Homo sapiens: one gene and its partners. The protein of the gene in region 3 interacts with the protein of the main gene of each other region in a biochemical or structural test. Each region holds a gene or a part of one and is shown on either strand. Other genes may lie near its edges.

Region 1 (7,741 bases), on a different chromosome or scaffold from region 3:
AGATCTATACTCTTAAAGTAGCTAACGCTAACTATTCACATCTCCCAAAACATCTTAATTTCCAAATATATGCTAATCTATTAATTGTAACTATGCTACACATTATTTTCCCTAATAGTTCTTAACAGATACTTACTGGTTTGTTTAAATGATGTCCTACTGAATCTGCTAATGTTCCTATGGCATCGTAAAGAATGAGCAGGTTCTTATGCTGGTATTTACTAAATGCAAAGACCAGGGTATCAAGTATATAAGCAAGGTAAGGAACAAGTTCTGTACAAGCCTCCTCTTCTAGGGTAGCAAAGGCACTGTTTAAAAAAAAAAAAAAAGAATACTTATTGACTGTAAGATATATCTAACTCTTAATTGCTAAAATGTTTATGTTCTGTTTTACCCAATCAGGAATTTCCTAAAATGGTCTAAGCCATCTGTTAATGAAAGCCCTGGTCATCAGCACTGTGAATTATTTACCGATTTCTTCCATAGCACTTGCCATAAATGATAATTATGTTGCTGCTTTGTATTTCCTACTAACCTGTAAGTCTCAAGATGGCAGGGACTTTATGTAAACTCAGCATTTAGTATATGCTTAACAATTAATAGCTAAAAAAAAAAACCGAGGTACTGAATGAATAAATTATAGGATCTCAAACATAATCTATATCCTCCCTCCCTTAATATCTTCCAGATATGACTGCTTCAGATGGATTAAGGTCAAACTCAAATTTACTATCCCTGCCAGGCGCGGTGGCTCACGCCTGCAATCCCAGCACTTTGGGAGGCCAAGATGGGTGGATCACTTGAGGTCAGGAGTTCAAGACCAGCCTGGCCAACATGACAAAACCCCATCTCTACTAAAAATACAAAAATTAGCTGGGCATGGTGTCGCACACCTGTAGTCCCAGCTACTCAGGAGGCAGAGGCAGGAGAATTGCTTGAACCCGAGAGGCGGAGGTTACAGTAAGCCAAGATCACACCACTGCACTCCAGCCTGGGCGACAGAGCAAGACTCCATCTAAAAAAAATAAAATAAAATTTTCCTTTTTTTTGTTCAACAGTTATTTTTTCCTACTATCAAGGTCAATGGTAAAAGCAAACCTACTCGAAAAATTAAGAACTATAAACATAAGCAGAAGGCCCTTTTAAAATATAAAGGTATATTGCAGGAAACTGGAATATTTGTAGTAATAAAAGCAACTGCTGGCTTGATATAAAGAGACAGCCACCAAACCAACCAATAGAATGGCTACTAGAGCAGAACTACTAAGCACTCAAAGACCTTTAACTGGTAAGTGACAGACCACAGGTCCCTGTGGGACTTTCTGAGTTATGGTGGTTGACCTGTAGTCTAAGGATGTCAATCTGCTCAAACGTTGTTATTCCTTCAAGAGTAGGAGTCCTGCCATCACTAGTTCAGATGTCTGAGGGAATTAGGGTGTAAGATAGTTCTGTTATAATAACCACTGAGTGGGAAAAATGAGCCAAAGAAGAAACAGCTAAGATCGATGTTGTCACATTTAGATCTACAAAATCATCAGGTAAAACCCACATGACAAAATTCTCCTGGCCAAACAAAATGTATAAAATACGCTAATATGCAAACCCAAAAGCTACAGATCCTGCAAAACACTTCACCAAGAAGAAAAAAGAAAACTAAGCTTTCTGATATAACTGGAAAATTTTCAATTACGAAACACTTCATTATAGGTTTAACACCAACACTCCATCAGAAGGTTGAAAATTAAGTTTTTCACTGCCACAAAGAACACTGTGTTATGAATCTGTCCCACCTGCAGGCAGCTTCTTGTACTCTCTTGTTGCTGTCCAGGATGCGCTTTAGCAATTCTGTCATTAATGGCTTCAGGTACGTGTCTGGCGGCTGGCTGACCACCCAGTGTGCATAGCGGCTAAGAGTCCAGCATGTTATGGAACGCACAAGAGCCTTTTTATCAGAGAGGCACTGAATAAGGTGAGGAATAAGCTCAGGCAAGTATGGAATCATGCCCTGCATGCAACCTAGAAAAAAAATAAATCTTTCAAAATGCTAAAATTTAGTTAACATTATTTTGGTTGATTATGAAAATAAAACACGTATCTATGAAAAAATTCAGAATATTTCTACTGCTATACACATACTACAATAACCTATACCAAAATTATTTTTAAAACCCTGAAGTTAGAGCTACCTGCTCCCAAGCATCTTACAGTGTTTCAATTTCTTCTAATAGATGTTTACTGCCAGGACAAAATCAATAATAACCCTTCATAGAGAATGAAGAGAGTCTTGCCTTATTGTGTTTCCTATACTTACCTAAAGAATCAAGGATTTTTTTTTAAAGCAATGGGGATGCTTCAGACATCAGAGCCTTTCATTCTGTTCCCTTAATTTTTTTGTTTTTATTTTTTATTGAGATGGAGTCTTGCTCTGTCACCCAGGCTGGAGTGCAATCGCACGAATTCAGCTCACTGCAACTACCACTTCCCAGGTCCAAGCAATTCTCCTGCCTCAGCCTTCCAAGTAGCTGGGACTACAGGCACATGCCACCACGCCCAGCTAATTTTTGTATTTTTAGCAGACGTGGTTTCGCCATGTTAACCAGGCTGGTCTTGAAACCATCTCAGGTAATCCACCCGCCTAAGCCTCCCAAAGTGCTGAGATTATAGGCGTGAGCCACCATGCCTGGCCTCTGTTACCTTTATTATAACAAAAACATTTTGCAAAATATCTAGCTGGGGTTAGAAGACGGCCTATGGCTGTTTAATACTAGTTATCTGGTTCAAAATAGAAATTCCTTAAAGTAGCCTAGCCTTATTAGTACCTAATAGTAGTAAGAAGCCAACTTACATAATTCAAACTGGACTTAGGCTTACCTTCAGCAATTGCTCCTAAAACCAAAATGCCTGATTCTTTAACAACCCATTCATGATGAAAAAGTAATTCTTTCAAAAGGGGCAAAATATGTGGCAGCAGTTCATCACGATACACATTTGCAAGAACATCCAGGGCAGCAGCAGAACATTTTCCTAAGGAAATATTTAATTCAAAAATATTACATTAACCTCTTATTACTTATATATTATTTATTGTATATGTAACATTTTATTCGTATCTCTAATACGGAGTTTTAAAATAAGAATTCAATTGAATAGGAGGTAGTTTGTCACGTGAAAACATTTTGTGGTTTTTTTTTTTTTTTTTTTTTTTGAGATGGAGTCTTGTTCTGTCGCTCAGGCTGGAGTGCAGTGGTGCGATCTTGGCTCACTGCAACCTCTGCCTCCCAGGTTCAAGTGATTCTCCCGCTTTAGCCCCCTGAGTAGCTGGGATTACAGGTGTGTGCCAGTACGCACAGCTGATTTTTAGGAGAGACGGGGTTTCACCATGTTGGCCAGGATGGTCTCAAACTCCTGACCTCGTGATCCACCCTCCTCAGCCTCCCAAAGTGCTGGGATTACAGGTGTGAGCCACCATGCCCAGCCAAAAACATTTTCTATTAAGATGAATATTTTTTATGACAAGAACTTACTTGGCAAATTAATTGTGAACACATTGTATTCTGTACATAACTGTCATACTAGAATTCTGTCTATACAGTAAAACAAATACTGTGCCACTCAATTCAGTGCTTCTAACATAACCATTCAATATGATACACTCATATTACAATCATGATTACAATCACTGTTACAATCACGCAAAAAACATACATTATTAACTCTACTTAACATTTCCAGCAGTATATCATCTAGAATTAAACAGACAATTACTTAGCTGGACTTTAGACACAAAAACTGGAAGAAAAGTCACTGGCACATGAAACATAACGCATGCTAGAAAATACTCTTTACAAAGAATTAACTATGGGACTATAAATCAACCCAGATTTTATTATAATAATAATTTAGACAAGAGCAACAAAATCAAAAAGAACAACAAAAATATCATTTAACTGTTATGGGTAGGAACGTGTTCCTGAAGTTCATGTATTAGAAACCTAATCCCTAAAGCAACGAAGATGGGAGGTGGGGCCTATCAAGAGATGATTAGGTCTTAAGGGTTCTGCCCTCATAAATGGGTTAATGTCGTTACTGTAGGAGTGGGTTAGTTATCAAGAGAGTTGGCTTATTATAAGCGTGAATTGAGCTCTTAAGTGTGTCCTTCTGTCATCAGATGATGTTGCAAGGAGGTTCTCACCAGATGCAGCCCCTCCATTCTGAACTTCAGGTATCCTGTTATAGTAGTACAAAATGGACTAAGAAAATATCAGAAATTTCCAACGTGAACTAGGCATAGTAAATGGCTAATCACAAACTACTAGACAATAATAAAATCCTCAAAAAAAAAAAAAAAAACCAAACCAAACCAAAACAAAACCATTACATTGGCCAGAAATTAACACCTTACCCATCAATAAGGATCTTAGTTATACCACATGGTAGAGCCATACAACTAAACAGTACACTGACATGCAACAAAAGGAAATCTAAATCTGTATGTACTGAGGAAGAATGAGGCATACGATACACAGAAAGAAAGCAGCAGAGTACATATAATCTGATTTCACTTTTAGAAAACTGGCTTCTCCTCTAAAAAAGATGCCTGTATGTTTTCCCAAGCACGCACAGAAAAGCTTTTGGAAGGATACAAAGAATGGGATGTGAAGAGGAAGTGTTCCCCCATCCATGTATGTATATTATTTTGTAGAGTTTTCTGTGTAATGATCTTGAGCCATCCTGCTCCCCTAATCTGAAAGTAGGGATACACTGGGAAGTAATTTGTAATAGTAGTAAACACCATGTGTTGTCTTAACAAGTGAGACTTGGGTCCCAGTACTAGATGTGCTATCAGTACTAGCTATGCTAACCTTGGGTATATCTCTCTTTCTGCAGTTTTCTTGCCTATTCAAGGTTGTTGGAAATGTTAAATATGACTTTATTCTTACTTATGATTAAACAGACTTTGATATGCATGCAAAGTCCTTGGCCTAGTGCCTGGCACATTAGGCACTCTAAATAGAATGTTAGTTACAGGAAACTGAAGAGGCAACAGAGAAATTAGCATTATCTAACCAAATGAAGAACACAGCCCAGACTGATAATGTCTGTTCTTAACTGCTTTAATCATAGTTATTAGAAATCCCAACACTTTGAACTAGAGTAGTGGCTCTAAACTGGGGTTGATTTTGTTCCCCCAGGAGATAACGGTTGTCACAACTGTGTTTGTGCTGCTGGCATCTTTGGGTAGAGGCCAGGGATGCTGCTTAACATCCCACAACGTGCAGGACAGCCTCCGCAACAAAGAATTACATGCATGATGTGGCATTCACATGTAGAAAAAAAAAAAGAATTATGTGGCCCAAAATGCCAATAGTGCCAAGGCTGAGAAACCCTGAACTAGAGCAGTAGAGGTTTAAAATCCAGCAAACAAGCAAGCAAAATCAGAACACAGGTGTTTAGGTTCATCCCCAATTAGGAAGCGTGGGCCAGAATGCTAGCTCCACAGGTGATATGATTTGCAGCTAAGGTTGGAAATTAACATATTTTAAGAAGCATATTTCATAAATTTTGACTATAACAAAGCAACTTATAATAAATTTGAATATAATAAAGCAACTTATATTATTTTAGAATTACCTATGATAGCCAATTTTCATGCAAATTACCAGACAGAAAACACTCATGTTAGAAAAACCAAAAAAGCTTGTGGCAATGTTCTTACAGTATTAAAACAAACAGCCTTTTGAGAAATGGTAGTTTAAGAATATAATAATGATAAAATAAGAGCAGGTCCACCAGGAAAATGCAAACCAAAACCACAAAATACCACTTCACGTCCACTAGAATGACTATAATAATAAAGAGATAATAAAGCAAGTGAGCATGTGAAGAAACTGGAACCCTCCAGACAATGCTGCTAGGAAAGCAGAATGGTGCAGTCACTTTGGAAAACATCCTGGTTATTTCTCAAAAGGTTAAACATACAGTTACCATATGACCCCAACAATCCTTCTCCTGAGTGTTTACCCAAGAGAACTGAATACACATTGGGCCAGACACAGTGGCTTACGCCTGTAATCCTAGCACTTTGGGAGGGCAAGGCGGGTGGATCGCTTGAGCCCAACAGTTCAAGACCAGCCTGGGCAACATGGCAAAACTGTCTCTACCAAAAAAAAAAAAACAAAAATTCATCCAGGTGTATTGGTGAGCACCTGTAGTCCCAGCTACTTGGGGAGCTGAGGTGGGAGGATCACCAGAGCCCAGGGAGGTCAAGGCTGCGGTGGGCCATGACTGCGCCACTGCATAATCATGCTAGCCTGGGTGACAGAGACCCTGCCTCAAAACAAAAAAACAAACAAACAAACAAAAAAAGTCTACACACAAAAATTATACATGAGTATTTATAGCATCACAACTCAACAGCTACAAAAAGAGAAACACAAATGTCCACCAACCAATGAATGGAGAATATGTGGCATATTACAATGAAATATTATTTCACAATACAAGTGAATGCTACAAAATGAACCGTGAAAACTTTATGCTAAGTTAAAGAAGATGGTCACAAAGGACAATGCATTGTATGACTCCATTTACATGAAATGTCTAGAATAGGCAAACCCAGAGACAGAATATTGACTAGTAGTTGCCCAGAGCCAGTGAACAATAGGGAGTTACTGCTAAAGGGTATGGGTGATGAAAACATAGTCTACAACTGATTGTGGTAATGGTTGAACAGCTCTCTGAATATACTAAAAACCAATGAAATGTATACTTTAATGGGTAGTAAACTGTACAGTAGATGAATTATACCCCAATAAAGTTATCATCAAAGTAGGCAACTGTGCTTTTCCCTTTCTGACTTACTTAGATTCCAGTCAGAAATTGTATCATCATCATCAATTTCATCATCATCATCATCTTCCTCTTCAATTCCATCTTCATCATGCTGCTGAGCCACCGTCCTCGATCGGTGAAAACGTGGCCGTATATCCTGTTCACTATCAGGAATCGTTTCGTCTTCTTCAACATCACCCTGTTGTTTTTTTAAGAGAAATTTTTGGTGGCATTCATTATAGGCTAATAGTATGTACATGAGTAAGAGAAACAGAATATCCAGAGATGGGGTCATGCACAGAATTCTGAAATATACTTCCAGAGTGATTAAGAACCACGCCCATGTACAGAACATATTCCTTATGGAGGGGCGAATAGACTGACCTAACACACCTGTTAGGTTATACGGCCCTTTCAGCCAACTACATGGCCTCCACTGGCTGGTATAATCTAAGTTACCTGAATCAAATTCAGAGCAGCATATATAAGAATGTTTTTAAAATAACTCCAAGTAATTAAGGGGAAATTAATAATAACCCTACCAATGTCACCATCTAGTACCAAATTAAGCAAGAATTTATCATTACTTAAACTTATGCTTCTATCCTATTATGGATAATAGGAAGTCTATTTACAGGAGATCTATTCTCAATGAATGTTTTATTGGCCAAATCCAAAGATGTACTAAGTCAATATAAAAATCTTGTTCCCTATTCATCAAAAAAGCTTCCTTACCTTAAGTAGGATAATATCTATGTCTGAGTACTTCATGCCATTCACTAACACAGGAATCAACCTATAAAGAAAGAAATTCATGAAACAAAGACCTTAAGATCTCAAGAGAATAATTAATAAGTCTTAACCTTACATGTACTAATAAAACCAATGAGATAATCAATGGTAATATTGT
Region 2 (7,741 bases), on a different chromosome or scaffold from region 3:
AAGCTTATTTATTTTGTTTTTGAGGCAGGGTCTCGCACTTTGGCTCAGCCTGGAGAGCAGTACCCCAATCACAGCTCACCGCAGTTTCAACTTCCTGGGCTCAAATGATCCCCCTGCCTTGGCCTCCCAAAGTGCTGGGATTACAGACAGGTGTGAGCTACTCTGCCCAGCTCAATAAAATAATTGTAAAATATACGCTGATGTCTGTATGGGGAAAAATCTTGAAGAAGAGACCTCATACTGAGGGGTAGCGGCTATCTTGGAGGGAACTGATAGAGGCCTCTCAAGCCTATAATGTACATGCTGTGTTGAGTTTATATATCAAATGCATTTGTTTTTCTTGCTTTTTGTTTTTTTTGTTTGTTTGTTTGTTTTTTGAGATGGAGTCTCACTCTGTTGCCCAGGCTGCAGTGCAGTGGCGCGATCTCAGCTCACTGCAAGCTCTGCCTCCTGCGTTCATGCCATTCACCTGCCTCAGCCTCCTGAGTAGCTGGGACTACAGGCGCCCACCACCACGCCCAACTAATTTTTTTGTATTTTTTAGTAGAGACGGGGTTTCATCGTGTTAGCCAGGATGGTCTCGATCTCCTGACCTTGTGACCCGCCCGCCTGGGCGTCCCAAAGTGCTGGGATTACAGGCGTGAGCCACCGCGCCTGGCCTTGTTTATTTGTTTTTTTTTAAGAGACAAGAGTCTCGCTCTGTCGCCCAGGCTGGAGTGCAGTGGCAGAATCATAGCTTACTGCAGCCTCAAACTCATGGACTGAAGCGATCCTCCTGCCTCAGCCTCTGCAGTAACTGAGATAAATGCATTTCTAATCTGAGAAAATTAAAGATAAAATCAATGAGCAAAGAAAAAAAAAACCGAGACAGAAGCAGAGAGGTGGGCACATGCGCGGGCCACTCACCTTGTCCTTGAAGTCGGTGTGGTTTTGCAGGATGGCGCGCTGGTAGGTGCCTGTCCGCACGTAGTCCTGCATCATGTTCTGCTGCTGGGACAGGTAGCCATAAAACTGGAACAGAGACATACCGATGGCACGGGGCACATGGTGGCACGAGGCAGCCAAGGCCCTGGCCAGCCCTGTGATAGAGCAAGGGGCCATCTAGGGCACAAACCTCCCTCGGGAGGTCGTGCACCCTCTGCCTGGGCCCCACTAGCAGCTCCAGGAGAGGGAGCAGGAAGCCGGAGGGCAGCCCCCAGGAGGACACCGCCACTATCACTGCAGCCGATGGCAACAGCTGATGCCGCCTGGACCTGGAAGCCGCCCAGGAGAACTCAAGATTTGCCACAGGCAGGGTTCTGGCATCGGGGGCCACCTGCCTCATCTTGAGGGCCCCAAAGAAGAAGAGAAGCAGATCGAACAGAGCCCTAGAACTCAGAGCGCCAGGCAGGTGAGGTGTGGTGTCTCTCTGTAAGACAACGGGCGATCGGGAGGCAGCGTGGCACCTGGGCAGGGGCACAGACTTTGGCATCAGGCAGACCTGGCTTCCCATCTTGGCTCTGTTGCATATAGCTGTGTGACTTGGAGCAAGTCACTTAACCTCTCTGAGCCTCAGTTTTCTCATCTGTAAAATGGGGACAATAATAGCACTTACCTCCTAGCGTTGTTGGGAGGGTCCAAGTGCTTCTGTGCATGTGACAGCGCTTAGACCAGGGCCTGGCATGCAGGGAGCGCTCAGGGCATTGTAACTGCTCTACCGTTATTCACAACGCCTGTGGCCCTGAGCTCCACCTGTGCTCAGATCCTTCCAGCAACCCTCTCAGGCAGGCACCTGCATCTCCGCTTCACAGATGAGGAAACTGAGGCCCAGCCAGCAGAGGAAACCTGCCCAAGGCTACATGGCCAGTAAGGGACAGAGCCAGGACGGGAACTTGGGTGGGCCTTCCCTGTGCTGTGTGGCCTCCTGCGGGTGAGTGGCAGGGGGGCTGCCGGGGGGAGGCGGCCTGGCTGAGGGGGAGTACAACCCACCTGGAAGTACTGCACGGCAGAAGACTCCTCCGTCCGCTCGCTGAACACAGACCGCTCCAGGGTGTGGCCCCGGCAGGTTTTCAGGATGTTGTAGAAGGAACAGAAATCTGGAACAGGGAAGCCAAGTCACCGGGGGGCGGTCAGCAACCCAGCATGTGGCCATCTGGGAGGGAAGGTTCTGGATGGCCGTATGTCCTGACGTTTCTCCCTTGAACATACAGGGCTGGTGATTTCTCTTCCCCGAAAAACAATTTTCAAAGTTCAAAGAAAAGATGAAGGGCAGCCATGCCTGCACTGTGGTGACTGACATGAGAAGAGGGCAGGTAGCCTGCATGTGGGGCTGCTGTCTGGTGGGAGTGGGCCTGGGGATTCCTCACCAAAGGGCAGCTTGGTGAAGCTCTCTCAAGCACACGCCCACCGGCCCAGGAGTCAAAGCTCTGGCAAATAAGCCCAAGTCCACCCAGAAGCTCAGGGCAGCATCTGTGTGGGGGCAGCAGACACTGCAATGTCCAGTAAGAGGGGACTGGACAAATGCCAGGGGCACAGAAAAGCACAGTAGAGGCCAGGTGCAGTGGCTCATGCCTGTAATCCCAGCACTTTGGGAGGCTGAGGTGGGAGGCTGAGGTGGGCAGATCAGCTGTCAGGAGTTCCAGACCAGCCTGAGCAACATAACAAGACCCTGCCTCGTTAAAAAACAAAAACAAAAACATGAAATAAAAAATTAAGAAAAGCATGGCAGAGAATCACCAATCACCACCCTTCCCAGAGATGCAATGGTATGTGGCCCTTTAAAGCAGGCTCTATCTATTTGGCTGGGGACAGTGGTTCTCAACTGTAATCCCAGCACATTGGGAGGCTGAGGCGGGTGGACTGCTTGAGCCCAGTTTAAGAGGCCAGCCTGGGCAACATAGCAAGACCCTGTCTCTACAAGAAATAATAAGCCGGGCACGGTGGCTTATGCCTGTAATCCTAGCACTTTGGGAGGCTGAGGCGAGTGGATCACTTGAGGTCAGGAGTTCGAGACCAGCCTGGCCAACATGGTGAAACCCTGTCTCTATTAAAAATACAGAAATTAGCCAGGGGTGGTGGCGGGCACCTGTAATCCCAGCTACTCAGGAGGCTGAGGTGGGAGAATCACTTGAACCCGGGAGGTGGAGGTTGCAGTGAGCCAAGATTGTGTGACTGCACTCCAGCCTGGGCAACAGAGTGAGACTCTGTCTCAAAATAAAATAAAATAAAATAAAATAAAATAAAATAAAATAAAATAAAATAAAATAAAATAAAGCTATATTTATTAACATAGAATAATAGCCACTAAATTATATCAAGTAAAAAACAAAACAATATTTAAAAGACAATCTCTTTAAAAATTAAAAGACACGGTCAGGCATGGTTGCTCACGCATGTAATCCTAGCACTTTGGGAGGCGGAGGCAGGCGGATTACCTGAGGTCAGGAGTTCAAGACCAGCCTGGCCAACATGGTGAAACCCCCGTCTCTACTAAAAATACAAAAAATTATCTGGGTACAGTGGCACGTGCCTGTAATCCCGGCTACTCAGGGCGCTGAGGCAGGAGAATCGCTTGAACCTGGGAGATGGAGGTTGCGGTGAGCCGAGATCGCGCCACTGCACTCCAGCACTCCAGCCTGGGTGACAGAGCGAGACTCCGTCTCAAAAACAATGAAAAGACACAGTTCGGGATGAGCAAGTTCTGGAGATGGGCGGTAGTGACAGTTGCACAACAATGTTAATGTGCTGCTTGCTACCAACCTACACACTTCAAAAGGGTTAAAATGATCACATTTTGTTATGTAGATTTTAGCACAACTTTTAAAAACTGACAGAACTGAAATAAAAAATATTAAAATACAAATAGTCTTAAGAGTGGGAACGGCCGGGTGCAGTGGCTCATGCCTGTAATCCCAGCACGTTGGGAGGCTGAGGCGGGTGGATCACTTGAGGCCAGGAGTTTGAGACCAGCCTGGGCAATATGAAAAACTCCATGTCTACTATATTAAAAACACAAAAATTAGCCAGGCACGGTGGCACACACGTGTAGTCCCAGCTACGCGGGAGGCTGAGGCATAAGAATCGCCTTGAACCCGGGAGGTGGAGGTTGCAGTGAGCTAAGATAGCACCACTGAACTCCAGCCTGGGCAACAGAGTGACACTCTTTCTCAAAAAAAAAAAAAAAAAAAAAAAAGGGGCCGGGCACGGTGGCTCACATCTGTAATCCCAGCACTTTGGGAGGCTGAGGCAGGTGGCTCACTTGAGGCCAGGAGTTCAAGACCAGCCTGGGCAACACAGTGAAAACCCATCTCTACAAAAAATTAGCCAGGCATGGCAGCTTCACACAGCTGGCCCCGAGGGCTCAGGCTGCCCAAGGTACATCTGGGTCACTGCACAGCTACCTTGAGACAAGGGGGAGGCCGGCAGTGGCTCATGGGCACGCAGCCTCTCCACCTCCAGCTGTCCTCGCACCAGCACCTGTGTCAACCACTGGACTCACTTCAGGTCTCTGGTAACCAAGCCTGCGGTGGGACCTTCAGACCATCTCCAGCCCTGGGCATTCCTGGACACCTCTCTGCTACCCTGGCTGCATCCACCTGGGGTTCTCCCACCCCTAGTCAGGAATCTTGTGTCCACCTGTGCCCCCAAGGTGGGTTGGTTAAGCCCTTCTGGTGGCTTCTCTGCGCCCTGAGCAAACTCTTCCTGCCTCTAGGACCTCGCCTCACTCCATCCACAGCTGGCCCAGTCACAGCTGGCCCAGGGCTGGCCACTGCCAGAAAGACTGGTCCCAGGTGGTCAGGATGGGCCTCTTGGAGGTGGGGACATAGAAGCCAAGCCCCAAAAGACCCGGAGGAGCCGGTGAGGGAGGGTCTGGGATCCAGGGTCTGCCCAGGCCAGAGTGTATTCTGGGCATACCTGCATGTGGGAATGTGGTTTTGAGGGCAGTGGAGCCTTCTTAAGGATGCACGGGCCACCCCTCAGCCAGGCTCTACGCCCCTGCCCACCAGGGCTCTGGGCGCTTTGGGCTGGTGTCACCGGAATGGAAGGAGGGCCACGTACCGTTGGGTGTGGCGAACTGGATGAGGACGCTGTTGCAGCCCAGGGTGATGATGAAGGACTGCTTGCCCACACGGCTGCACTCTGTCTCTCGGGACACTGAGCACTTAAAGACACACACATCTTCATCTACGAGAGAAGACAGGCTGGCGTGAGCGGTGCAGCCCTGTCAGCTGCCTTCTTTTGAGCCTGGGTCCCTGTCGCCCTCCTGCTGCCTCCCCTTGGTGCCCCCAGATTCTTCCAGAGTGCCACAAAACCACCCTGGCAGCATTGCCGGGTGCCCTGACTGCCCAGCCCACATGGAAGACAAGGGAGCGACTGATCAGACAGCAGGAACACAGCCTGTGTCCTCAGGATGATCAGGGCTGAGACGGGCATGGTGAAGGCTGAGGTGGGCAGACAGGGCCACAAGGCATGGTGCTGGCCCACAGGAACTCAGAGCTGGAGCTGCCTCTGCCCTGCTCGGCTGAGCCCTTCTGTTCTTGGATGGGCGCAGAGCAGTGACTGCATGTGGCCAGTGGAGTCAGACCGCTGGGTTCACACCCCATCCATGCCATTTGTTCACTGTGACACAGGCATGTCCCTCAGCCTCTCTGGAACTGGGGTTCTCACCATCAGATGGGGCTAATGGCGGGGCAGTGGTCTAGTGAATTAGGACACTGTCTCCCTGTACCCATCATGATAGCTGTTACCAGTCATTCATTCCACAAACCTGCAGCCACTCCACTCCAGCCAAATGGTGAAACTTAGCGATGCCAGGAACGGGCCAGCCCAATCAGGCACTGTGCCCCTGCCTGCCATACTGCAGTGGGACAGGTGCATCATCTGTAGTATTCTTGGCAAAAATGTTTGCCCTAGTCTCATCTTCAAGGGACAACAGAAAAGGACAAGTTGTGGGGCAGGCTACAGGACAACCAGCCTGGTCTCCTTGAACAGGCCAATGTCAGGAAAGACCAAAACGGTGGGAGCTATTCCAGAGTGCAGGAGACAAGAAAGAGGGGAGTGCCCAATGCAATGCAAAGTGGGACCCTGGGCTGGAGCCAAACGAAAAATGTTTTTAAAAGTTATACAGGACAACTGGGGAGGCTGGGCCCACACCTCTAATCCCAGCACTTTGGGAGGCCAAGGCAGGAGGATCACTTGAACCCAGGAGCTGGAGATCAGCCTGGGCAGCATAGCAAGACCCCATCTCTACAAAAAAATTTAAAAATTAGGCAGGCATGGTGGCATGCGCCTGTTGTCTTAGGGACTCAGGAGGCTGAGGCTACAGTGAGTCATGACTGTGCCACTGCATTCCAGCCTGGGTGACAGAGCAAGACCTTGTCTCAAAAAAATAAATAAAGGACAACTGGGGAGCTGGACAGAGTGGCTCACACCTGTGGTCCTAGCTACTTGGGAGGCTGAGGTGGGAGGATCGCTTGAGCCCAGGAGGTTGAGGCTGTAGTGAGGTATGATGGTGCCACTGCACTCTAGTCTAGGCAACAGACGTGAGATCCTATTAAAAAAAAAAAAAAAGACAACTAGGGAAATGTGAGTGTGGACTACATATTCCATAATTTTAAGTTATTTGGATGTGACAATGGTATTGTGGTTTTGTAGAGAAATGCATATTTTCTTAGAAAACATATGCGGAAGTATTTATGGCAAATTCCCATGATGTCAGTAGCTTGCTTTTGAATAGCCCATCATAACAACAACAACATGAGTGCAAATATGGCAAAGTGTTCTCAATCACCCTGAATAGCCAAAACAGTCTTGAAAAAGAATGAAGTTGGAGGATTCCCATGTCTCAATTTCAAATTTTACTACGAAGGTACAGTAATGAAAACAGTGTAGTGGTACTGGCAAAAGAAAGGAGACACAGATCAATGGAACAGAATCAGAGTCCAGAAATAAACCCTTATACTTATCCTCAATTGATTTTTGATAAGGATGCCAAGAACATTCAATGGGGAAAGAATAGTGTCTTCAACAAACACTGTTGAGAAAACTGGATAACCACAGAGAAAAGAATGAAGTTAAACCCCTACCTCACACCATATACAAACAAAACAGAACTCAAATGGAGCAATGACCTAAATATAAGAGCTAAAACAAGAAAACTCTTAGGAGAACTATTTGCAAATCATCTATTGTTAAGTATTTAGTGTCCAGAATATATAAAAAACTATTTTAGGGTCAGGCATGGTGGCTGACACCTGTAATCCCAGTACTTTGGGAGTCAGGCAGATTACTAGAACCCAGGAGTTTGAGACCAGCCTGGGCAACATGGTGAAATCCCGTCTCTACTAAAAATATAAAAATATTAGTCGGTGTAGTGGCATGCGCCTGTAGTCCCAATTACTTGGGAGGCTGAGGTGGGAGAATCACCTGAGCCCAGGAAGTTGACACTGCAGTGAGCAGAGATGGCAACGCTGCACTCTAGCCTGGGTGACAAGAATAAGAGCATGTCTCAAAAAAAAAAAAAAAAAGTCTGGGCACAGTGGCTCACGCCTGTAATCCCAGCACTTTGGGAGGGCAAGATGGGTGGATCACGAGGTCAGGAGATCAAGACCATGCTGGCTAACACAGTGAAACCCTGTGTCTACTAAAAATACAACAAAACAAAACAAAACAAAATTAGCTGGGCATAGTGGCAAGTGCCTATAGTCCCAGCTACTCAGGAGGCTGAGGCAGGAGAATGGTGTGAACCCGGGAGGTGGAGCTT
Region 3 (8,129 bases):
GAGTATTCATTCATTTATTTTTTTACTTTTTTAAAAAAATAAGATTATTCATTACTGAAGATGACTCATTCAGTTATCATTTACTGAGCACAGAGTGATAGGCAAAGGGAACACAAATATAAGATGGTTCCCTGTCTTTTACAGTTTATAGACTAATAGGGAAGGATCTTACAAGTCACCATTCAAAAAGCTTTTTTTTTTTTTTGAGACAGTCTCACTCTGCTGCCCAGACTGGAGTGCAGTGGCACGATCTCGGCTCACTGCAACCTCCGCCTCACGGGTTCAAGTCATTCTCGTGCCTCAGCCTGCTGAGTAGCTGGGATTACAGGCGCACGCCACCATGCCCAGCTAATTTTTGTATTTTTAGTAGAGACGGGGTTTCGCCATGTTGGCCAGGCTGGTCTCGAACTCCTGACCTCAGGTGATTTACCCTCCTCGGCCTCCCAAAGTGCTGGGATTACAGGCATGAGTCATCGCACCTGTCCCTCAAATAGCCTTTTAAATATGTTTGCTTTTTTCTTTTTTTGAGACAGGGTCCTACTCTGTTGCTGAGGCTGGAGTATTGTGGCATGATCATAGCTCACTGCAGCCTGGAACCCCTGGGTTCAAGTGATCCTTCTGTCTCAGCGTCTGGATTAGCTGGGACTATGCCACCACACTCAGCTAATGTGTTTGTTTCTTTCATAAGGTAATTATGCCTAGTAGAAGAAGTTTGAAAGTTGGAGTGATTTTTTAAAAATAAATATGTAATGGGCTGGACATGGTGTCTCATGCCTGTAATCCCAACACTTTGGGAGGCTGAGTTGGGCAGATGGCTTGAGCCCCAGGAGTTTGAGACAAGCCTAAGCAACATAGTGAGACCTTGTCTCCACAAAAATAGAAAAAATTAGCTGGGCATAGTGGTGCACACCTGTAGTCCCAGCCACTTCGGAAGCTGAGGAGGGAGGATTGCTTGAGCCAGGAGTTTGAGGGTGTGGTCGGCTGTGATCATGCCACTGTATTCCAGCCTGGGCGACAACGACCCTGTCTCAAACAACAAAGGCAGCAAAATAAACAAGTAAATAAATAAATAATGATTGTGGAAAATTTGTAGAACATAGAAAATTATAAAGAAAATGAATCATAATGCTGTCACCCAGAGACAATTACTATTTTGGTATACTTCTTTCTAGTATTTGTTTGTCTGCTTTTATGATCATGCAATTTTGTATACGCAATTCTGCTTACCATTATATTGCAAGCATTTTTTCTTGATGTTAAAATGTTTCAAAGTCATAATGACTATATACAATTACTTCTACTTGTGTACAGTAATTTTAATGCCCACTTGGTCCTTTATCTGTATTTTTTCACTTTGATAAAAATACTTATTCTGGCTGGGCATTGTGGCTCACGCCTGTAATTCCAGCACTTTGGGAGGCTGAGGCGGGCTGATCACCTGAGTTCAGGAGTTCGAGACCACCGTGGGCAATATGGTAAAACCCCATCTCTACTAAAATACAAAAAATTAGCTGGGCTTGGTGGTGGTGCGCCTGTAGTACCAGATACTTAGGAGGCTGAGGCACAAGAATCGCTTGAGCCCTGGAGGTGGAGGTTGCAGTGAGCTGAGATTACGCCACTGCACTCCAGCTTGGTTGGGCTATGGAGTGAGACTCTGTCTCAAAAAAAACAAAACAAAAACAAACAAACAAAAAATATTTATTCACAAATTGGATTACATTTTTAGAAGAGATAAGAAATAGGATTACTGGGTTAAGAATCTCAACTTTTTTTTTTTTTTTTTGGAGAGAGTCTCCCTCTGTCACCCAGGCTGGAATATAGTGTCGCGATCTTGGCTCACTGCAACCTCCACCTCCCAGGTTCAAGCCTTTCTCCTGCCTCAGCCTCCTGACTAGCTGGGATTACAGGCGCCCACCACCACACCCAGTTAATTTTTGTACTTTTAGTAGAGACAGGGTTTCACCATTTTGGCCAGGCTGGTCTCGAACTCCTGACCTTAGGTGATCCACCTGCCTTGGCCTCCCAAAGTGCTGGGATTACAGGCCGTGAGCCACCTCACCTGGCTCTTTTTTTTTTTTTTTTTTTGAGACAGGGTCTCACTCTGTTGCCAGTCTGAAGTGCACGTAGCACCAATTATGGTTCACTGTAGCCTCAGCCTCCCAAGTAGCTGGGCAGGGACTACAGGCACACGCCACTTTGCCCAGCTAATTTTTGTATTTTTAGTGGAGAATGGGTTTTGCCATATTGCCCAGGCTGGTTTTGAACTCCTGGACTCAAGCAATCTGGCTCCCAAAGTGTTGTGAGCCACTCCGCCTGGCCTTAAGAATCTCACCATTTTAAAAGCTTTTGATATATACTGCCAAAGAATAGAAAGATTGTACTGGTTCTTGCTCCTTTTTTCCTCCCATGCCTAAGTTTTTAAAAAAAATCAGATATAGTTGTAATTATATATTATGTACAATTTTACATTCTTCTTTGGCTTAACAAAATTATTTTCGCATGTTTGTCATACTATGTAACCCTTTTAAGAGATGCATAATAATTTTTTTTGGATATAATTATAGTTTGCTTAAACTTTTGTTTATTGTTGGAATTTAGTCTTGCCATTTTTCACACATAATTTTTATGTATTAAAGCAGGCCTTATAGTAGTAGTGATCTGAGCTTTGAAAGCTGGCTTTGAATTCCCTGCACATTATTATATATATTACATAATATATATTATGTATAATATATATATAATTTTTATTTTTTCCTTTGAGACAGAGTCTTGCTGTTGCCCAGGCGATTCTCCTGCCTCAGCCTCCCGAGCAGCTGGGTTTACAGGCATGTACCACCATGCCCAGCTAATTTTTGTATTTTTAGTAGAGATGGGGTTTCGCCATGTTGGCCAGGCTGGTCTGAAACTCCTGGGCTCAGGTGATCCTCCCGCCACAGCCTCCCAAAGAGCTGGGATAACAGGTGTGAGCCACCACGCCCAGCCAGCCCTGCACACTTCTAATTAGTCCAATGACTTAGGCAAGTTTCTTCATTTCATTAAGCCTTTTTCTTTTTCCCTAAAAAAGGTTATGGTTTTGGAAATACTTTCCCCGTGGGGTTGTTGTGAGAGTCCAGTGAAATAATAAGGAGTGGTGCTTATTACAAAATCAAACGCTCAACAAAAATAGGATTCAAAGCCATTTTTAAAAATCACATTTCCTTTTGTTGGCTTGATTAAATTGGGTACCAATAAGATTAACAAATCTTGATTAGGTTAAGATTAGTATAAAAGACCTTTCTTCCAGGGTATTCAATCATTTAGAGCTTGTCTTCGGTGCTCAACTTTAGTTATCCCAGATCACTGAAGCTGAGATGGCTGATGAAGTAATTTGCAGTGAAATTTTAAGCGACTGTGACTCTGCTGCAAGTTCCCCAGATCTTGAGGTAAGGAATTGTGAGAAAAAGTGGGGGTGAGGGGAATAGTGGGGTATAATGAGTCACTTGATTTTTTGGTTTGCTAATGAGGATCTTCTCTTGTCCAAATCCCTCGGCCAACCATGTTTGTTTAACTTTTTGGTTGGGCTATATGTATCTTTCGAACTGTAGGTTAGTGTGCCCACAAAAATTTCTCTTGCAAACGTACACTGCCATTCCTTTCTTTTTAATAAATGTGTAGGACTGCTACCAAAATATGGCAGTCCTGCCTTCCAGGGCTAGGTCTCATTGGTACTTGGGGTGCAGGGGTGTAGTGGGAACCTGCCAGGAGAAATTCCTCTGGGATCTTGGGGGCTTGAGGGCTTAAATGAAGGGTGGCACCCAAATCCCCAATCAATGCCTGTTCAATCAACAAACATCTAACAGGACATTATGTGGTAGGCATATTGCCAGGCCGTGGAGATGCGAATATAAATAGGAACCGGCCCCTCATCTGCAGGCGCTCACAACCTAGTTAGGAAACAGTAAAACAATTAAGCGCGCCGTGGAGATAGGCCCACTTGTCCTGGGAAATGAGGGGAAGCTGGGGTTTGCAGTGGTTTGATTGAAGGGGGACTACATGTTAGAGGCACAGACTGGGTGCAGGTACACCCAAAGGAACGAGAAGAGTGGAAGGAAACAACATCCACAAAGTAACCACATGCTGGCGTATCGAAGGCCGTGATTTACGGTTTTGAGACTTTACCTCGCCAGCAAAGGGGGGCCAGTCTGTTAGCGGTGCAGATTGGAGGGGTGACATTGGAAGCTGTCCAGGAAAAAGAAAATGGAACTGGGGAGCAGAAGGCCTACGCAAGAGGGCGGGACAGACAGGACTTGTGACTAGTAGCTCTGGACTGAGGAATCCTCCCTGCTTTCTGGTGCGGGAGAGCTAGTGGATGATGGTGCCAATAACCTGGATGGGGAAAGTAAGCTCCCTCCTGGAATGCTTCATTCACAACCTCCATTTTCAGCAACATCCCATCTACTGGTGCTTCCTGGTCGAGATACAAGTTTCCTGAAACTGCTGCTCTGTTTTGGGCCTCACCCGGCCAACAGCTCACTAGCTGGCAAGCAGTAGTATCAAGATGGCGGCCCCCTAGGACTGGCTAGTCATGTGACCTCGGGTTTCCCAAGTTTGAAGCCCGGCAGTCCTTTCGGGGGCAAGGTTCACCTGTCACGAAACGAGTGTCACCCCTTCGACTCTCGCAAGCCAATCGGCATCTGAGACTGGGCCACTGCGGTGAGGCGATCGGAAGATTGGTCCTTTCCAGTCGCCTAGCTAGGGCCAATCACGGAGCGTCCCATACTTCGCGGGCCCGCCCGTAGGCCGGGGAGAAGCAGGAATATCGTCACAGCGTGGCGGTATTATTACCTAAGGACTCGATAGGAGGTGGGACGCGTGTTGATTGACAGGCAGATTTCCCCTACCGGGATTTGAGAATTTGGCGCAGTGCCCCGCCTTAGAGGTGGGGCCTTATTTGATTGCCAAGTAATATTCCCCAATGGAGTACTAGCTCATGGTGACGGGCAGGCAGCTTGACTAATGAGTCCTCGGCGTGGCCGGCGCAGCTCTCCAATCGCCGGGCGGCGGGCCCCAGTCTGAGCGGCGATGGCGGCGGCGGCGGCGGCGGCAGCAGCAGCGGGGGCTGCGGGCGGTCGGGGCTCCGGGCCGGGGCGGCGGCGCCATCTTGTGCCCGGGGCCGGTGGGGAGGCCGGGGAGGGGGCCCCGGGGGGCGCAGGGGACTACGGGAACGGCCTGGAGTCTGAGGAACTGGAGCCTGAGGAGCTGCTGCTGGAGCCCGAGCCGGAGCCCGAGCCCGAAGAGGAGCCGCCCCGGCCCCGCGCCCCCCCGGGAGCTCCGGGCCCTGGGCCTGGTTCGGGAGCCCCCGGCAGCCAAGAGGAGGAGGAGGAGCCGGGACTGGTCGAGGGTGACCCGGGGGACGGCGCCATTGAGGACCCGGTGAGGGAAGGAGGGCGAGCGAGCAGGCCGGCGGCTGGCCGGCCGGGTCACTGGAGGCCCAGAGCTCGGGCGAGCGGGTGGCAGGCGGGGGGTGGGGTTGGGCGGGGAATAACGTGGCTGGGGCCGGGTCGGGCCGGGGATGGGTCAGCGATCACTACAAGGGGCCCGACTGGCTTGATTCGGGCGTCACGGTTGCCTAGTGTTGTTCTAGAGAGGGTAGCTTTTCTTTTATCACGACCCTCGCATGGGGCGAGGGAAATGGCCGAGCATGGCTGAGGCCGCGCTCTGGCCGAGAGCAGGGCACAGCCCCTGCGTTGGTTCCTCTTAAGCTGTCCTCCATACCCTCCCCACTTATATTAGGAGCTGGAAGCTATCAAAGCTCGAGTCAGGGAGATGGAGGAAGAAGCTGAGAAGCTAAAGGAGCTACAGAACGAGGTAGAGAAGCAGATGAATATGAGTCCACCTCCAGGCAATGGTGAGTAACTGGCGGTTGCACGCGGAGCCCGGGTTCTCGGGTTGGAAGGGTTGTGGGGAGGATGGGGAATGTGGGGTTAGATACTCGGCACCCTGGAGCTGCTTGTCTGAGCTATTATGACTGTGCCGCGGTCATAGTCCGTTGTGTGTTCCTCTGACCTTTGTGAGGCAGAACGTATATTTTGGTGGTGGTAGCCTTGTGCCTCCCTTTGTGCCTGTTATAATTGTGTTGCTCTTTGTTCTTAGTCTACGTCTATCTTTCTTTGTAGAGGTTGCGTGCTCGCATTTGACCTTCAAATCTAATAGTTTTTCCTCCAATTGGAGACGCTTTAGGATTCTAAGAGAAAGCAAGCTGCAAGGGGTTTCCCCTTTAATCTAGAAATGTGGAGTCTCAGCCCACTTAATTTTGCTCACTCTTAAAAGCATTTCAACCAAAGCCATTCATTAGGGATTTGATTTGGAGGCAGGAGGGATTCCTATACTGTTTTAAGTGTGTATTAATTCTTTCAATTTATTGAATATTTAGTGAGTACCTGCTATGCACTAGGCACTATTCTCGGTTGTGGGTACAGCAGGGAACAGCACAGACCAAAATCTTTGCCTTCACTGAGCTTATGGGATAGTGCTGGTGGTGGAAGTGCAACATATTGGTCAAGTAGAAAACAAGTGTGTGGTTTTTGTAAAAAATTATTTTTTCCTGATAGCTGGCCCGGTGATCATGTCCATTGAGGAGAAGATGGAGGCTGATGCCCGTTCCATCTATGTTGGCAATGTACGTACTGGGGCTCTGACTGGGGTTGGGGGCAAGTTCTTCTTTTGGGGAATTATTTAATAGTCCTGAAAGGAACATCTCCGGGATAGATGTGGTTTTGGGTGTGGAGGGAGTGTGGGAAGGAGGTTAAAGGTAATGGAATGATCAGTAATCAGCAAAGGCTCTGGGTTTGGAAGGAAAAGAGATTAATTCCTCAAATTACCAGATTTCATGTGCTTTGGTGTATGATGGCCCAGACCAAAGGCTCGGGAGGGTTCCTTTTGAGACAGGAATTTGCCTGGTGCCTGTGAAATTTTTCTCCTCTCATCAGGTGGACTATGGTGCAACAGCAGAAGAGCTGGAAGCTCACTTTCATGGCTGTGGTTCAGTCAACCGTGTTACCATACTGTGTGACAAATTTAGTGGCCATCCCAAAGGGTAAGTAAAGGGGAGTAAGTTGAGATAATTTAAATTACAGTGTACAAATAGATAAATTATGTTTTATATTGAGCAGTAAGTTATTTGGTGTTAACACAGGTGATCTGTGTCATTTAAGATCATGGCATTAATGTTGATATATCAGGAGTTGCACCTAAATGTCTTCAGAGGCCAGATAACAAAAATGAAGGCTAGATGTGGGTGGGATTACGAACTAGAAGGGGAGGGGCAGCTTCTACTTGGCCTATTATGGCCATATGGAAATTCAGGCCCTGTGTGTCTTATTTTTACAAATTTCAAAGAGTAGCTGGAAATTTTAAAATTTAAATGATTTCGAATGATTGAAATTTTCCATTTAGAAGAATTTTGACAAATAAAAAATATAACTGCATTGTAGCCCAAAACGAAGCATGCCTGCAGGTTGAATTTGACCTGTGAGGTATTTGTAACCTCAGAGAGATACAATGACAATTCTTTTCAGGTTTGCGTATATAGAGTTCTCAGACAAAGAGTCAGTGAGGACTTCCTTGGCCTTAGATGAGTCCCTATTTAGAGGAAGGCAAATCAAGGTAAGCCTATGTCCATTGCTGTTCTAGTTGTGTATAAACTCTCCAGGTTGCCTTTAAGGCTATCATTTGTTCATCTCTGACTCAGGTGATCCCAAAACGAACCAACAGACCAGGCATCAGCACAACAGACCGGGGTTTTCCACGAGCCCGCTACCGCGCCCGGACCACCAACTACAACAGCTCCCGCTCTCGATTCTACAGTGGTTTTAACAGCAGGCCCCGGGGTCGCGTCTACAGGTCAGGATAGATGGGCTGCTCCTCTTTCCCCCGCCTCCCGTGAGCCCCGTATGCTTCCTCCTCTCTGGTCTGAGGAACCTCCCTCCCCCCACCCCTCCCCGTGGTCTTCAGGAACTTTGTCTCCTGCCTGTGCAGGTTGAGGAAGGTAGTTGCAGGCCAGGCCAGAAGGCCAGCCTCATCATCTTTTCTGCAGTAGAAATTGGTGATAAGGGCTGCATCCCTCCCTTGGTTCAAAGAGGCTTCCACCC

What was found.
Region 1: the proteins of PABPN1 (region 3) and TNPO1 form a complex in vitro, tested with the Homo sapiens proteins (one study listed by BioGRID).
Region 2: of the proteins of PABPN1 (region 3) and CARM1, one has a biochemical effect on the other in vitro, tested with the Homo sapiens proteins (one study listed by BioGRID).

What each region holds. Positions count from the first base shown.
Region 1 is NC_000005.10:72,882,353-72,890,093, reverse strand, and holds part of TNPO1 (transportin-1), read right to left. Parts: intron 7,628-7,741; coding exon 7,567-7,627; intron 7,031-7,566; coding exon 6,862-7,030; intron 3,025-6,861; coding exon 2,872-3,024; intron 2,017-2,871; coding exon 1,791-2,016; intron 309-1,790; coding exon 137-308; intron 1-136. UniProt on the Homo sapiens protein: Functions in nuclear protein import as nuclear transport receptor. Serves as receptor for nuclear localization signals (NLS) in cargo substrates.
Region 2 is NC_000019.10:10,902,373-10,910,113, reverse strand, and holds part of CARM1 (histone-arginine methyltransferase CARM1), read right to left. Parts: intron 5,164-7,741; coding exon 5,038-5,163; intron 2,076-5,037; coding exon 1,969-2,075; intron 1,565-1,968; exon of another isoform or gene 1,320-1,564; intron 1,012-1,319; coding exon 907-1,011; intron 1-906. UniProt on the Homo sapiens protein: Methylates (mono- and asymmetric dimethylation) the guanidino nitrogens of arginyl residues in several proteins involved in DNA packaging, transcription regulation, pre-mRNA splicing, and mRNA stability.
Region 3 is NC_000014.9:23,316,409-23,324,537, forward strand, and holds the start of PABPN1 (polyadenylate-binding protein 2), read left to right. Parts: upstream 1-5,048; 5' UTR 5,049-5,061; coding exon 5,062-5,412; intron 5,413-5,597; exon of another isoform or gene 5,598-5,772; coding exon 5,773-5,887; intron 5,888-6,590; coding exon 6,591-6,658; intron 6,659-6,968; coding exon 6,969-7,075; intron 7,076-7,556; coding exon 7,557-7,644; intron 7,645-7,729; coding exon 7,730-7,881; coding exon of another isoform or gene 7,882-7,891; exon of another isoform or gene 7,892-8,129. Other genes in the region: BCL2L2-PABPN1 protein, read left to right, coding at 5,773-5,887, 6,591-6,658, 6,969-7,075, 7,557-7,644, 7,730-7,881.